Homo sapiens: one gene and its partners. The protein of the gene in region 1 purifies or fractionates together with the protein of each later gene. This does not show direct contact. Each region holds a gene or a part of one and is shown on either strand. Other genes may lie near its edges.

Region 1 (4,108 bases):
CTTACTCAGTCCAGAGGGAACCGTGTGGGTGGTGACTGGCTAGAGGCATTGGAGCGGGCTTGAAAAGGGAGCACTTCTCACACGTGAAGGTGCACACAAATTTCCAAGGGATCTCGTTAAAAATGTACATTCTGACTCAGTAGGTCTGGGGTGGAATCTTAAGAGTCTGTGTGTCGCATAAGCTCTTAGGCAATTCTCATGCTGCTGAGGACCACACGGTAGTGTAGTGAGCTGTGAGGGAACAACGCACATTCTGCACAACAGTGACTTTCAGGACCCTCCTTAATGGGGCATTTATCTAAGGGCCTTGCTCCCTTTTGATTTAGAGTTCCTTGAAAGCAGAGACTGGGTCTCATACATTTGTTATTGTTTTGTTCTCCGGTTGGCACAGGGCCTGCACACGGTGGGTATGTATTTATTTAATTAAAGAGTTGGCCTGTTCCAAGAAGGATTTTAACCCCTAGCGGCACTGAACAGGTGGCGATGAATTGGCCGGGAAGGAAGTCGGTCCTAGGGGTAGTCACAGACCCCCTGGGCTGGGGTCCCCTCCACCTGCCTGCACCTGTATCACCCCTCAGCTGCTGTTCTGAAATTTTCCCTCCTGCCCCATTTTTAAAGCGGTTTACACCAGAGAGCCGACCAGAAAGGAGAGATACAAAACCAAACCAGCAAGCCCTGGGAAGCGGTAGGCTTAGGAACATGGAAAGCTCAACCGTCGGTTGTGGGGCCCGCAGATCTCTCTGGTTCCCCTCTCTGCCCCGTCTCCAGCTTTTTTGCAGGTCGGTGTCGCGGCCTCGCAGATCCCCAACAGCCCCGAGAGCCCTGAAGGAGCTGGTCCCAGCGGGTCCAAGCTCGTGTTGGCTTGGTGCAAGCCTGTTTGTTAGCTCTGCACGACCAATTAATTTTCTCCTGCATCTTCCCCCCGTGGTGGGTGGCGGGGTGGGGAGGGGGTGTGTGGCGGGGCCTCGGGTCGGCTCGGGGGTCGGAGAGCCCGGACAGGAGCGACTACACTGCAGAAACCCTTTTTCTAAGAGTCCCCAGCGGTGCCATAACCTGTTTCTCTCTGCAGCAGCCTCAGAGGGTAAAGGAAGGGCTCGTTGCAGCTCCATATGGAAGAAAGGAGAGAAAAAGGGAGAAGGAAGGGGATTATATTGGTCAGTAGAGGTCCAACTACTGAAGAGAAGAGTGCACGGGGGAGTGCGCCCTACGGGACGAGTACACGTGCTGGGAAGGGCGGGGGGTGAGAGGCGGGCAGGAGGGGAGGAGTAGGGAGGCGAGAGCAGCGGGCGGGAGGCGCCACGGCCTCTCAGACGCTGGCGCCCGCAGCCGAGAAGCCAGAGAGAAAGTTCCCGGGGAGAGCTCGCCCCTGGGAGGGCCGACGTCGAGCCTGCTCGCCGCGAGGGTCTCAGGTACCGCGCGTCCAGCCAGCCTTCCCGCGGCGCGCACTCGGCCGCCCGGGCTCGGCTCGTCGGGAAGCAGGGGAACATCGCCGGCTGGCAGCCGGGGCGGCCGCCGCCAAACTTGGAGGAGGAGGATGCTGCGAGTGGGCGCGGCGGCGCGGGGCGCGGGGGCGCACTGAGTGCTCCCTACGGCGCTGCTGCCAGGGCTGTGGCCGGGCGAGCCGGCCGAAGCGGAGCGGGCAGGTAGCGGCTCTAGCGCCGGGACTGCGCCAGCCCTGCGAGCCCGGGCCGCCAGCGCCACCGTGCCGGCGTCGCCTCCTCGCCACGGAGCCATGGTGCGCGCAGCGCGCACGCGGCGCGCGGGACTCTGAGCTCCGGCCGCGTCGCGCGTCCCCACCTTCCCAAGGGGCTCCCCCGCCGACCTCGCCCTCGGGCCATGAGGCTTTGGCCCGGAGCTCCTCGCCTCTGAGTCGCGCACCGCCTGCTCCAGCCCCAGCGCCGCTCGGCCACTGATTGCACTCTGGCCGCTGAAGCTCCCCATCCTCTCCCAGAGACGGCACCCAGGCGCTCCGGGATGGCGCTCCGCGGGACCCTCCGGCCGCTCAAAGTTCGCAGGAGGCGAGAGATGCTGCCGCAGCAAGTCGGCTTCGTGTGCGCGGTGCTGGCCCTGGTGTGCTGTGCGTCCGGCCTCTTCGGCAGCTTGGGTGGGTGCTGGTACGGGTCCCCTCTTCCTGGGGAGTTGGGGGCTTTGGCTGGGGAGTCTCGGGGCGGCTGCGAGATGTTTTCCCCTCCTTCCTCATCAGGTTGGTCCCAAGGGTTCATCCAGTCCCCTCCCCGCCGGGCAGGTAGAGCGCGCCCAGAAGAGCTGATGGACGCTCTGGGCTGTGGCGCCGGTTCCCCTGAGCTACGAGCGGCCCCTGGGGGGGCTCAGGACGCGGCTGCAGGTGTGTGTTACTAAGACGAAAGCAAGAACCGCTTCCGTCCCGGGAGTGCGCCCGGAATGGGCAGCGCAACTGCGGGGTGCAGGCAGGATTCTCTTGGTCTGGGGTGGGCGAAACTGAGTGGCCCGCTTTCCTATTCTGCAGAGCCGCAGGAACCGCCACTGCGTCTCGCCCCTGCCCTGGTTCAAAGGGGTCCCCTGGGTGCCCTGAGGTGTTTGTTCTTCCCAAACCCTAAAGGCGTTGGGGCAGTCTGCCGCGGGGGGTAGCTGCCATGTTTCAGCATCGCGTCTCTCAACTCCCCTTAACTCCCACGGAGGGAGAAGGCGGGTGTGTGGAGCCTCGACCCATGCCCCCTCCTCCAAGAAGAGGGATTTGGGAGTAGCTTAGGCTATGCAAATTTCAGGTGGAGCGGGAAGAGAGAAGGAACTAACCAAAGAAGTGTGTTTAGGGGGATGTGACCCCATGTGTAACCTTCAGGAGGCATTCACTTCCCTAACTCAGGAGACATTCACTTCCCTAATCGTCTCATTTTGAGTTGGATGCTGTGAACCTTTTAATTTCATTATTTTTTTAAATGTAAAAAGACAAAAGAAATGCTGGTGATTTAAACACCAAGACATGGAAGGTAAAGCGGGTAGTACCTTCTTGAGCAGTTAGAAAGGCCGTCAACATCCAGAGACCATTTAGAGAGGTGTACACTGATAGGTAAAAATCCAGTGGAACTTGATTAAAGTTTTCAAAATAACTGCCTTTCGAAACCTAAACTTTGTGATTTGAGGATGCAGGGTTAAAAAGTGGCTCTTTGCAGTGAGACCCAGGAAGATTATTTTGAATATCTTAGTACCTGGTGCTTTGCAATTGGGCAAGTCAGTGTTTGGATTTTTTTCCCCCCTCAATTACACACCAGAAATAACAACATACCTAGAGGCTCTTAGACATCAGCATTATAGAAGAGGTATTATTACCCAGCTGAAGCAGTGCGCATCAGGAGAGGTAAATGAATACTCTGAAGGTCTTAAAGTGAGAATCATTTTTATTTGCTGGATCAGGAATTACCTTTAGGAGTTTAAGTGTGCTTGGTTGCGGGCCTCCGCAAATTCTCTCTTGCCCAGTATGGCCCCTGGACCAGCAGAATCAGCACCACCTGGGAGCTTGTTAGTGCAGAATCCCAGGTCCCACCCCAGACCTGCTGAGTCAGAATCTGAATTCTAACAAGATCCCCAGGTGATCTGTGTGCACATTCAAGTGTGAGGAGCACTGGGCCAGACCGCATCAGCCTTGCCCACCTGCTTGCTGACTTGCTATTCATTCGTGAAGTTCCTCCAGGGCAGGGGCCCTCTGAGAGTGTCCTTTACTGGAAGAACACTTAAAAGGTCACCTATCTAAACCGTTTGTTGCACCTATGAGGTGCTGAGACCACCTCAGTCTTGGCCAAGGTCAGGTCACATGCTGACCCATCTGGGACTGGAAACAGTGAACTAGATCCAGGAAACAGGCCATTGTATGTAAGCAGGTGATATTATACTTCCAATCATCCTATCAGTCCCTAAAGATGGCTCTGAATAGGCAAACAGGGCTGTTGCTGACATAGACACACAAATGTAAGGTCATTTTGGAAACGCAGCCATCACACTGACCTAATGGTATCTGTGACTTATTTTCCAATCCAGGGCACAAAACAGCTTCTGCTAGCAAACGTGTCCTGCCAGACACGTGGAGAAATAGAAAGTTGATGGCCCCAGTGAATGGGACACAGACAGCCAAGAA
Region 2 (3,500 bases), on another chromosome or scaffold:
TCTCTCCTTCAAGTAGTGTAGGGTTAATCTCTCTTAGTGCTTTGTAGCTTAAACTAAGTGACTGAGAACAGTCTGTCTGCCTCAGGAATCGTACTCATCAGAGATGGACTCCTTCATTTCTTTCCTTGTAGAAAAGTAAATCCACTTTTATTTTCATATAAAAAGAATAATGAAGGCTGGGTGCAGTGACTCATGCCTGTAATCCCAGCACTTTGGGAGGCCGAGGAGGGTGGATCACCTGAGGTCAGGAGTTCGGGACCAGCCTGACCAACATGATGAAACCCCATCTCTCCTAAAAATACAAAATTAGCTGGACCTGGTGGTGCATGCCTGTAATCTCAGCTACTTGGGAGGCTGAGGCAGGAGGGTTGCTTAAACCTGGGAGATAGAGGTTGCAGTGAGCTGAGATTGCGCCGTTGCACTCCAACCTGGGCAACAAGAGCAAAACTCTGTCTCAAAATACATAAATAAATAAAAGGAATAATGAAAGGTGAGAATAATGAGAATTTTTTTTAACCTAAATGCTAGAGAAATGGTGATATGTGCTCTGCTCTGAGTCAGTAGTTTATGCAAATGCTCCATCGTAGATAAGTCAGATAATTATGGAGGAAGCTGCATTATTTGTATTCATTTGTAGACTAATTCTTAGGTGTTTGTATAATTTCTGAATACATTTTAAAGCAAAAAAAACCATATATTTGATTAATGGAAACTAAATATAATGAAAATTGAAATGTAATGATGTTTTATGTTATTGTCTTTCAAGAATATCCCAATTCCAACCCTAAAAGATTTTGCAAAGGCTTTGGAAACCAACACACATGTGAAATGTTTCAGTCTTGCAGCCACCCGGAGCAATGACCCTGTTGCTACTGTAAGTAAGCGACTTGAGAATATCAAAATTATGACATGCCCAGGGTGTGTTACAGTGGTGATTTTTATGAACAAGATTTACCCCTTTTTTATAGTTAATGTTTTAGCTCACTATTAGGCAGTATATTACTTACCAGCTTTTTGTGTTTATTTTTTCCTGTATTTCCTTCCTATGAATTTTTTCCCCCTCCCAGCTTCCCCCTCCTTCCTATGAATTTTTTAAAACATAAATGGAATCATGTAGTATATGCTGTTCTGCAACTTGATTTTTCACTCTGCAGTTTATCTTTAAAGTTTTGTTGTATCAATACATAGGGATCTACCACATTATTTTAACATCTTCAGAGGATTCCATTTATGGATCCTTAGTGGTGGATTTTTGTTAAATGCTTTTGCTGTGTCTCTTGAGATGTTCATATGGTTTTTGTCCTTTATTCTGTCAATGTGGTGTATTGATTGACTTTTATATGTTGAACCAGCCTTTCATTCCTGAGATAAATCCCACTTGATCATGGTATAAACCTTTTGTTTCATTGGCTTTGAGAATATCACTCACTCCCTTGGGGGCTCCCCTTACCTCAGTGGACATTCCTTCTCAAAGCCCTGTACTGGTTTCTCCATATCTCTTCAACTTCTAAATATTGGAATGGCCCAGAACGTGGTCCTTCTTTTCTCAGTCTACACTGACTTTCTGGGTAATCTCAGAAATATATATATTATCTTCATATACTTGCTGATGACTCCCAGTGTTATTATCTACAGTTTGTATCTCTCTCCTGAACTCCGTATTCATGTCCAGCTACCTCCTCAGCAGCTTTACTTGGATGTCTAATGGACATCTTACATGTAAGTCCTCAAACTCCTGACTTCCATCCTGTGCCTGCTTTTCTCTGCTGTTTTCTATCTTACTAAATGCAATTTCAATCTTTCATTGCTCAGGCAAACAAAAAAAAAAAATTTTTTTTTTTTTTTTTTTTGAGACAGCGTCTCACTCTGTTGCCCCGGCTAGAGTGCAGTGGCGCAATCTCGGCTCACTGCAACCTCCGCCTCCCGGGTTCAAGCGATTCTCCTGCCTCAGCCTCCTGAGTAGCTGGGATTACAGGCATGCGCCACCACGCCTGGCTAATTTTTGTATTTATAGTAGAGATGTGGTTTCACCATATTGGCCAGGCTGGTCTCGAGCTCCTGACCTTGTGATCCGCCCACCTCAACCTCCCAAAGTGCTAGGATTACAGGCGTGAGCCACCACGCCCAGCAAAAAAAAAAAAAAAAACAAAAAACTAATGGAATCATTCTCGACATCCCTTTCTTGCAACTTAAACCTACCTTTGGCCCTATCTTCAAAATATTTCAGAATCCAACCACTTCTCACCATTTTCACAACTACCACCTTGACCCAAGCCACCATCTTTTCCCACCTGGATTATTGCAACAGCCTCCTAATTGGGTTACCTTCATCTATTTTACCTACCCCAAAGTCAGTTCTTTACATAGCACCAAGAGTGATTCTTTTAAAACTTAAGTTAAATGACCTCATTCCTATTCGGATAACCCTCTAGCAGCTTCCCATCTCATTAAGAGTAAAAATAAAAATCTTTCAGTGGCCTTATAAGGCTTCACATGAGTGGACTTCATCTCATTTACTTGCCCTTTCTTTCATTCTACTCTAGCCATACAGCCTTCTTCAGCATGCCATGTGGACTCCCAAATCAGGGCCTGTACATTTGTTCCTTCTGCCTTGAACTTTCTTCCTAAAATAATCCACTTAGCTTTGTCTTATCACTTTGACTCTTTGCTCAAATGTCACCTTCTAGTTGAGGCTTTTCCTGACCGTGCTATATAAAATACCAACCCCATTCCCACCCCCAGTATTCCCCATCTACCCTATTGTGCCTTTTTTCTTTTTACCCTCTAACATTGCACTTTGCTTACTTTTATTATCTGTGTCCCTCCCCAGCTAGAATGAACATTCTGCCAGGCAGGGACCAATGTGTTTTATCTCTGAATCTCTAGGACAGTGCTAATCAAATAATAGACCATCAGTAATATTCGAATACATGTATGGATAAGGGATTTGTTCCAGGTCACATAGCTAGTTGTTGCTAATAGAAAGGACAAGTATGTAGATACCAGCCACAGTTTTTTTAGTATCTCTACGCCCTATTGCCTTTCCTTTAACTTTAAGCTTGGTCTTACCCATATTTTCTGTAGTTTAACCTTGCTTTTGATCCCTCTAAGGGGCTGTTTTATATAAACTCATGATCATTGTTCTTTTTTCTCTCTCTTTCCTTCCCCTCCTTCCTTCCCTTCTTCTCTCTTCCTACCTCTGTCTCTTTTTCTTTCCTTCCCAGTCTCCCTCCTCTTTCTTTTTTCACTTGTAGGCTTCTGTTAATTAATCAATATGGTACTTATTAAGCACTGAGTCAAATGTCTAACACTGTACTGTATCCTATGAGAAATGAAATAGAAGCAGATTGAAGACATACCATTACTTGAGGAATTTAATATTTTATTAGCCCCTTCTTCTCAATGGCCTTTGTGCTCTTCTGGTTCTGGTTATCTGTGTTCTTTTCTGGCCTTCTGCCTTGACCATTTCTTTTGGCCCCTGCCTTGGAAATTAGTACATA
Region 3 (3,500 bases), on another chromosome or scaffold:
ATTGCTATGACATGTCAGATAATGTTCACCAGCACAATATAGTTCCAGTTATGTATGATTCCTGCAGGATTCTTTCTTTTCCAGAAACCTCTCAAGAAAGCCAACAAGTGAGACTGACATTATTATGAAGATGCCCTTGACCCTGATGTAATTAACTGGCAAACTTTAGTATTTCAACTACTATTTGTAACAAAAGGTTTTCAAGATTCCACACCATGGAGCTTGACAAATCAGGGAGGCATAATTCCATACTTGAGAACTGGGAATGTGAACCTCCAGGATCCCAAACAATGGTTCCCCCATGATAGGCCAGACAGACTAGCACCAATATAGAGCCCTGCATGACTTTGCCATAGTCTGAAGGAGTGATGCCAATTATGAGGCATGGCAGCCAGAGTCAGAGAAACAGAGCATAGTTAGATAGCTCATCTTGGATGAATAGCATGCACTCTTAAAACATCTGGTCAAACATCTTTTTTTCCAAGAAAGGAGGAAAGACTTCAAATCAAATTAATAAGAAACATAAGCTCATTCTGGGGCATTTTTCGACTCTAGTCCAAACTGATTCCTCAGGGGATTTATAGCAGGAGTCAGAGTGACCTTTGTTGCCTCCAATTTAGGGTCTGTGGGCAGCTTGGAGTCCAGATGGTGGGGAACACTGCGGGCCTCAGCTGTGCTTGCCCTGCTGTGCTGCTCAGGCCTCTGGGCACATGCAGACTGTGAGATGGGGTCCCTGGTGTTTTCTTAGCCTCCTGCATTGTTTCAGGAGATGTGGGACAGGAGCACAGGGAGGGCAACAGCCTCTCAGTGACCTGTGTTGTAAAATGATCACATCCCAAGCATGCTTTGCTCTTTCCTTACTTCCTCCAGAGCACTTGGTGGGCAGTGGGACATGCTGCCATGTGCTCTCTCAGGCTGGACAGGCTTTTGTGGGTAGTGATGGCTAAAGCTGCACTGCCATGTCTTGCAGCAAACCACCACTGAGCCACGTGGCTCTTCTTCCAAGGTTCTCTCATTAGCCTCTCTCTGGTGTCAACCTGATTAGGCTTTTGATGAAGGACGATGGCACTGTCAGCCAAATGAATTGATAAGAATTATGGACTTTTTCTCCCTTATCTCACAGAGGTATCAGTGAAGGCCTAGAGAGTGGGACTGCTCCTGGGCCCACACAGCATAGGACACAGAAGATGCCTCAGTCCATAATGATTATGATGAACGAACGACTAATTTATCAAGTACCTCAAGACATAGTTGCAAAAAGCACGTGCCAATACTCAAACATTTATTTTGGGGATTTGGCTGGACAGCTTGACTATTACTCCTCTGACCCTCTCAAAGATCACAGTAAGAAAACCTTAATTCATGGCTTTGACTCTCAGGAGACTAGAGACAAGGCATCCCAACAATATGGCCACAGCAGCAGCATTTAGCACAGGCTGAAGAAAACATGAATGCAGTCAGGGACAATCTGAGACAACAAAATGGATATTTGTGCCTCTGTCTGTCCTCTACTTAACATAAAACCCCCAAACTCAGCAAATAGATTTTCTTCCACCACATTGTACTGCAAATTTCAAGCCCCTGGGAAAGATATCTAAGGAGTGCTTTGACTGCATTTCTGTTATTTGGTCATTCTGTGATTTTTTTGTCTTACCTGTTGTCGAATTTCTTCCTCCATTTTCACGGGTGAGCCCAATTCTGCAACTTGTTTGACGCCTTCGCTGGCATATCCTCCATATTCCCACAGTACATAATTCTTGGAGTGGGATCCTCCGATGATCGCAGACCAGTGGTTGGCCCGACCTGGGAAAGCCAATCAGGAGGCAGTTATCAGCATGGCTGTGGCTGAAACACGAGTCCCTTAAATGATGGGGAGGATGCGTAATTGGACATCGATTCAAAGAGCACTGACTAAGCACCTATTCTGTCTTAGGCCCTGTGCCATTCAGTGATAAGACTGAGTTCCTATAAGCAAATAGGTCTTGGGAATGTACAGACAGGTCAACAGCAGATGTTGAACAAGACGCAGAGGCAGCCCAGAGATGCGTTCTGTCTAGGAAGGTCTCAGAGAAGGGGATAGTTGAGAGAACGTTAAAGGCTGATCATATTTGTAAGGCAAAATAGAGTAGAAAGGACTGTTCTGGCAGACTCCCATCCAAGTGCTAACCAGGCTTGACCCTGCTTAGCTTCTGAGATCAGACAAGATTGGGTGCATTCAGGGTGGTATAGCCATAGACCAGACTCAGAAACATTAAATAACATTGTGTGTTTGGAGAGTCATAACTAATTCAGCATTGCTGTGTCACAAACTGTCAAGGGGAAAGTTAGGAGATGATGCCAGGGAGGTAGGAAGAAGCTGGCTCATGAATGGCCTTGCTCTAAATGCTTCAGGAGTTTGGATGTCATTTGAAAGGATCTGAGAACCACTGAAGGGTTCTGGCAGAGGAGTGATATAATTGCATTTGAATTTTAGATAAATCATCCAGACAGCAGTGTGAAGAATGCATTGGAGAGAGCACAGTTGGAGTGGAGAGCTGGAGAGGTAAGCAAGGAGCAAAAGATAAAAGAAATGTGTGGGGACCAGCCTTAGAAGTAAACATGGTTGATTTCAGCTGACTTCTATGTACATTTCAGTACAAGGGGCAGGCAGGTTAGCTATATTTAAAGGATGTGATGGACAGTTTGGATATGTGGAAGTGACCAGTCCACAGTGGTTTGGTGAAGATCACATGGGATGGTGGCTGCAGTGGGATGTGGGAGGGAATTAATGCACAACACAACAGCATGGGAAAACAGAGTAAGATCTGGGCTGGAGCAAGACAGAACTTGACTTGAGGATTTTATTTAAGTCCTGGAGGAAGAAGGAACTGATAGTATCAGCACCTTACTGGATTTGTTTTTTACATGTGATGAATACAGATGCATATACATTTATTATTGACTAAGTTACATATAATTAGTTCATCACACAGTTGGCTCAATTCTCAGCCATTCTTTGGTTGGTTAAACAAAGTCTCAAGTTAAATAACATTTTCAGGCATATCAAAGAGGAAAACTTGAACTGGGTGAACCCAACTAACATTTTCAGTTTCCCATCCTGTGGCCCAGAGTGGGCAGAACTCTTCACCCCATTACTGCCTATTTTAATAAACACTCTTGAAAAAAGAAAAAAAAAAAAAAGAAAGAAAGAAAGTGGTTCTGAACATGGCCTGGTTCTGTTTACAGCTCACATCGCTTCCCCATGGCCCTCTGCTCCAGGGCCACATCAAGAACATAGGTGTAAAGCCAGGCCGCACCTTCCTGGCCTGCTGAGGGCAGCCACGGCCCACCCCAGGCAGAGGACATCACCATGCGGGTTTGCCCAATTGCTTGTTCATTATTTCCTACACATCGGGAAAATGCAGACCCCATGTTTATCCTTCATCTCTCATATCCCTAGAGTAGACAGATAGAGATGCTGCCAGCCGTTTCTCTAACTCATTTCCTGGGTGAAGAGTCCT
Region 4 (3,500 bases), on another chromosome or scaffold:
AGAGGCCAAGCACATTGCGGAAGAGGCTGACCGCAAATACGAGGAGGTGAGTGGGGCTGGCAGATGGCGCAGCAGCAGGAAGTGGGAGGAAATGCATCTGCTGAGATAGGGAGGACACCGGGGCCAACGAAAGGAAGCTCTCGGTTAGGTCAGCTGTCCTCCTGCGTGAACATATGTTTGTCCAGAGACAACCACTTGGCTAGGAAACTATCTCCCACGATGCCAGAAAGTGCTGCGGACGCTTGTCTAACGTAATGGGAAAACCGAATGATCAGCTCACTTGTGTCGTTAGCTGGGAGTTTTGGCACAGTTGGGCAAAAATGGAGGATTGTGGTCCCAAGCCATGGAGTTTCAGACCATGCAAGCTCAGGCCCTCCTTTGCCTCCCTCGATGGCTCGGCTCTTCCCTCCCGCCTCTTGTCTGCCTCGCTCCTCAGGCTTGAGGAAGAGAATCAGGATTTCCTCCAGGCCCCAGGATGGCTCTTTCAGTTGAAGCGCCAGCAAAAGGCCAGGCGCGGTGGCTCGTACCTGTAACCCCAGCACTTCGACCGAGGCGGGAGGATCACCTGAGGCCAGGAGTTTGAGACCAGCCTGGGCAACATAGTGAGACCCCATTTCTAAAAATAATAATAATAATAATTAGCTGGGTGTGGTGGCATGCACCTGTAGTCCCAGCTACTTGGGAGGCTGAGGCAGGAGGATCGCTTGAACCTGGGAAGTCAAGGCTGCAGTGAGCTCTGACCACGCCACTGCACTCCAGCCTTGGAGACAGAGCAAGACCCTCTGTCAAAAACATAAAAGGGCTGGGCATGGTGGCTCACGCCGGTAATCCCAGCACTTTGGGAGGCCAAGGCAGGCAGATCACCTGAGGTCAGGAGTTCATGACCAGCCTGGCCAACGTGGTGAAACCCTGTCTCTACAAAAAATACAAAAATTAGCCGGGCATGGTCGTGCATGCCTGTAAGCCCAGCTATTTGGAAGGCTGAGACAGGAGATTCACTTGAACCCAGGAGGCAGAGGTTGCAGTGAGTCAAGGTTGAGCCACTGCATTTCAGCCTGGGTGATGGAGCGAGACTCTGTCTCAAAAGAATAAAAAAATAAAAAAGAGGCCAGGTGTGGTGGCTCATGCCTATAATCCCAGCACTCTGGGAGGCCGAGGTAGGTGGATCAGGAGGTCAGGAATTCGAGACCAGCCTGGCCACTACGGTGAAACCCCATCTCGACTGAAAATACAAAAATTAGCTGGGCGTGGTGGCACGCGCCTGTAGTCCCAGCTACTTGGAAGGCTGAGGCAGGAGAATCGCTTGAACCCAGGAGGTGGAGGTTGCAGTGAGCCGAGACTGTGCCACTGCACTCCAGCCTGGGCAACAGAGGGAGACTCCGTCCCCCTGCAAAAAAAAGAAACACCAGAAAAACCCATGTTGCAGCTGGTCTAGGGGTCTGGGTGGGGCATCATTGGGGGCTGTCTGCAGTGGATGGGAGAGGACACGGCTGGTGGGGATCGGGCTCAGCTGGGCCTTTCTGTCTCTGCAGGTAGCTCGTAAGCTGGTCATCCTGGAGGGTGAGCTGGAGAGGGCAGAGGAGCGTGCGGAGGTGTCTGAACTGTGAGTGGCAGAACAGGACTGAGCGAGGCTGGCTCGATTCCTGGGGCGGAGTGGGAAGGAGCTGGCTGTGTTGGGAATTGGCTCTGACCGGGGTCTCTGCTCAAGTGGACGGGCGTCAGGGGCTCATGGCTCATCTTTTCTCTTGGCTTCTGTGACAAAGAGGTGGTGACTTGTTCTTACTGCCATGGGAAGCACTGCCCACGTGTTGACCCTTTCTGCAAAGATATGAGGAAATAGGAGTGAGACAGGAGGCAGCAGGGAAGCCCAGAAGTCCCATTTTCCCAGAGAGGATATCTCAGGGGGCTGTGCCATCTTAACAGAACACTGACCTGCTCCAGAAGGCAGGCTCCCCCGGTCAGTATGTAAATGCTTTTGCTCCTGTCAGTGTTTGGCCGTGACACATTCCTGGCGGGAAGGTGAGAAGCTTAACCAGAATCCCACAAGCAAGCACCGAAAAACAAAACACCTGTCCTCTTGGCCCCGGGTGAGGAATTCAGCCCCACAGAGCATCCGGGAGTGCTGAGAGAGATCTGGTTTCACAAATCCACTCCGGGCTTCCTTCCCGGAGTGTCCCCTGCAAACTCCCATTGCTCTCTGCCCGCCTTCTGCCCTCAGTCCCATTCTTACACCTTCCGGAGTCGGCCTCATCAATCATAGATTTCACAAGTCCTTGCAGCCTTACCCTTGGCAAAAGACCAGGAGTGTTTTCCAAGCCCTCCAAATACTCTTCGGGCGCACCTCGCCTCTGCCTGGTATGATAAGCCTTTGATAAGCCCATAGTATCACACTGCAGAAAAATCCATTAACATTTTCTCCCCACATTCCTTCTGCCCCCCACCGGGGGAGCTGTGTAGGTTTCTCCTTTGGAAAATTTATTGTTGGGGCGATTGCTATTATTGCCGGCTGTAAGGGAAGATAAGACACAAAAATCCTTTGTCTTTGTGCAGAAAATGTGGTGACCTGGAAGAAGAACTCAAGAATGTTACTAACAATCTGAAATCTCTGGAGGCTGCATCTGAAAAGGTAGGTGGTTGGCTTGAGCTGGAGGGTGGCTTGCTGGACTTTGTTCTTTTCTTCTCCCGAGGGATGCAGGAGCCTGTCAGGTTATGGGGAATCTGCCCTTTATTTAACAGTAGCGTTGGTGCCTGGCAGCCAGGGTTTTTCCCCTACAGAAAGAGCTGGATTTCTCCTGCACACTCTTGAGTCCTCTTCCATGGGGTCTGAGCACCATCTTTGATCTCCATCTCAGGAGGATAGAGATAGAACATGAGGCTCTTCTTAGCGAGATCTGAGCATAGTTGTATAAATAAATACAGAGCCTGCCTCTCACCTGATTCCCCTGGTTCCTCCAGAAATACCATCTCAAAGGTATAGCAATGATCAGAGGTGGAATTGGGCTTTTTAGTTTGAAACAGCACCCAAAGCAGTTGCTACGTGGCAGCTACGTCGGGAACAAAGGACACACTTCCACGGCCGAACCCCACTGAATTTCCCAGCCTCTTCCTCATTCTTGCTCCTGCTTTTGCAGTTTCACAGACATTCTTTGTTCTCCCATCACCTCCACCCCCCACTTTTTTTTTTTTTTTTTTGAGACAGAGCTTCGCTCTGTTGCCCAGGCTGGAATTCAGTGGCATGATCATAGTTCATTGCAGCCTTGAACTCCCAGGCTCAAGCGATCCTCCCACCTCAGCCACCACCTGCTATTCACTCAACTGGGTGTGGCTTTCCTTTTGCTTGATAAACCCCTATTCAGCCTTTTTTTTTCTTTTCTTTTTTTTTGAGACAGGGTCTCACTCTGTCACCCAGGCTGGAGTGAAGTGGCGTGATCTCAGCTTACTGCAGCCTTCGACTCCCAAGTTCAAGCAATTCTCCCACCTCAGCCTCCCGATTACACGCT

Evidence for each region.
Region 2: the proteins of SLC24A4 (region 1) and TMOD3 purify together in Homo sapiens (affinity purification with mass spectrometry; one large-scale study listed by BioGRID and IntAct). This does not show direct contact.
Region 3: the proteins of SLC24A4 (region 1) and SPON1 fractionate together in Homo sapiens (co-fractionation; one large-scale study listed by BioGRID). This does not show direct contact.
Region 4: the proteins of SLC24A4 (region 1) and TPM4 purify together in Homo sapiens (affinity purification with mass spectrometry; one large-scale study listed by BioGRID and IntAct). This does not show direct contact.

What each region holds. Positions count from the first base shown.
Region 1 is NC_000014.9:92,321,857-92,325,964, forward strand, and holds the start of SLC24A4 (sodium/potassium/calcium exchanger 4 isoform 1 precursor), read left to right. Parts: upstream 1-1,308; 5' UTR 1,309-1,974; coding exon 1,975-2,104; intron 2,105-2,203; coding exon of another isoform or gene 2,204-2,344; intron 2,345-4,011; coding exon 4,012-4,108. UniProt on the Homo sapiens protein: Calcium, potassium:sodium antiporter that transports 1 Ca(2+) and 1 K(+) in exchange for 4 Na(+).
Region 2 is NC_000015.10:51,895,653-51,899,152, forward strand, and holds part of TMOD3 (tropomodulin-3), read left to right. Parts: intron 1-766; coding exon 767-874; intron 875-3,500. UniProt on the Homo sapiens protein: Blocks the elongation and depolymerization of the actin filaments at the pointed end. The Tmod/TM complex contributes to the formation of the short actin protofilament, which in turn defines the geometry of the membrane skeleton.
Region 3 is NC_000011.10:14,133,723-14,137,222, reverse strand, and holds part of SPON1 (spondin-1 precursor), read right to left. Parts: intron 1,804-3,500; coding exon 1,655-1,803; intron 1-1,654. UniProt on the Homo sapiens protein: Cell adhesion protein that promotes the attachment of spinal cord and sensory neuron cells and the outgrowth of neurites in vitro. May contribute to the growth and guidance of axons in both the spinal cord and the PNS.
Region 4 is NC_000019.10:16,086,495-16,089,994, forward strand, and holds part of TPM4 (tropomyosin alpha-4 chain), read left to right. Parts: coding exon 1-46; intron 47-1,532; coding exon 1,533-1,603; intron 1,604-2,550; coding exon 2,551-2,626; intron 2,627-3,500. UniProt on the Homo sapiens protein: Binds to actin filaments in muscle and non-muscle cells. Plays a central role, in association with the troponin complex, in the calcium dependent regulation of vertebrate striated muscle contraction.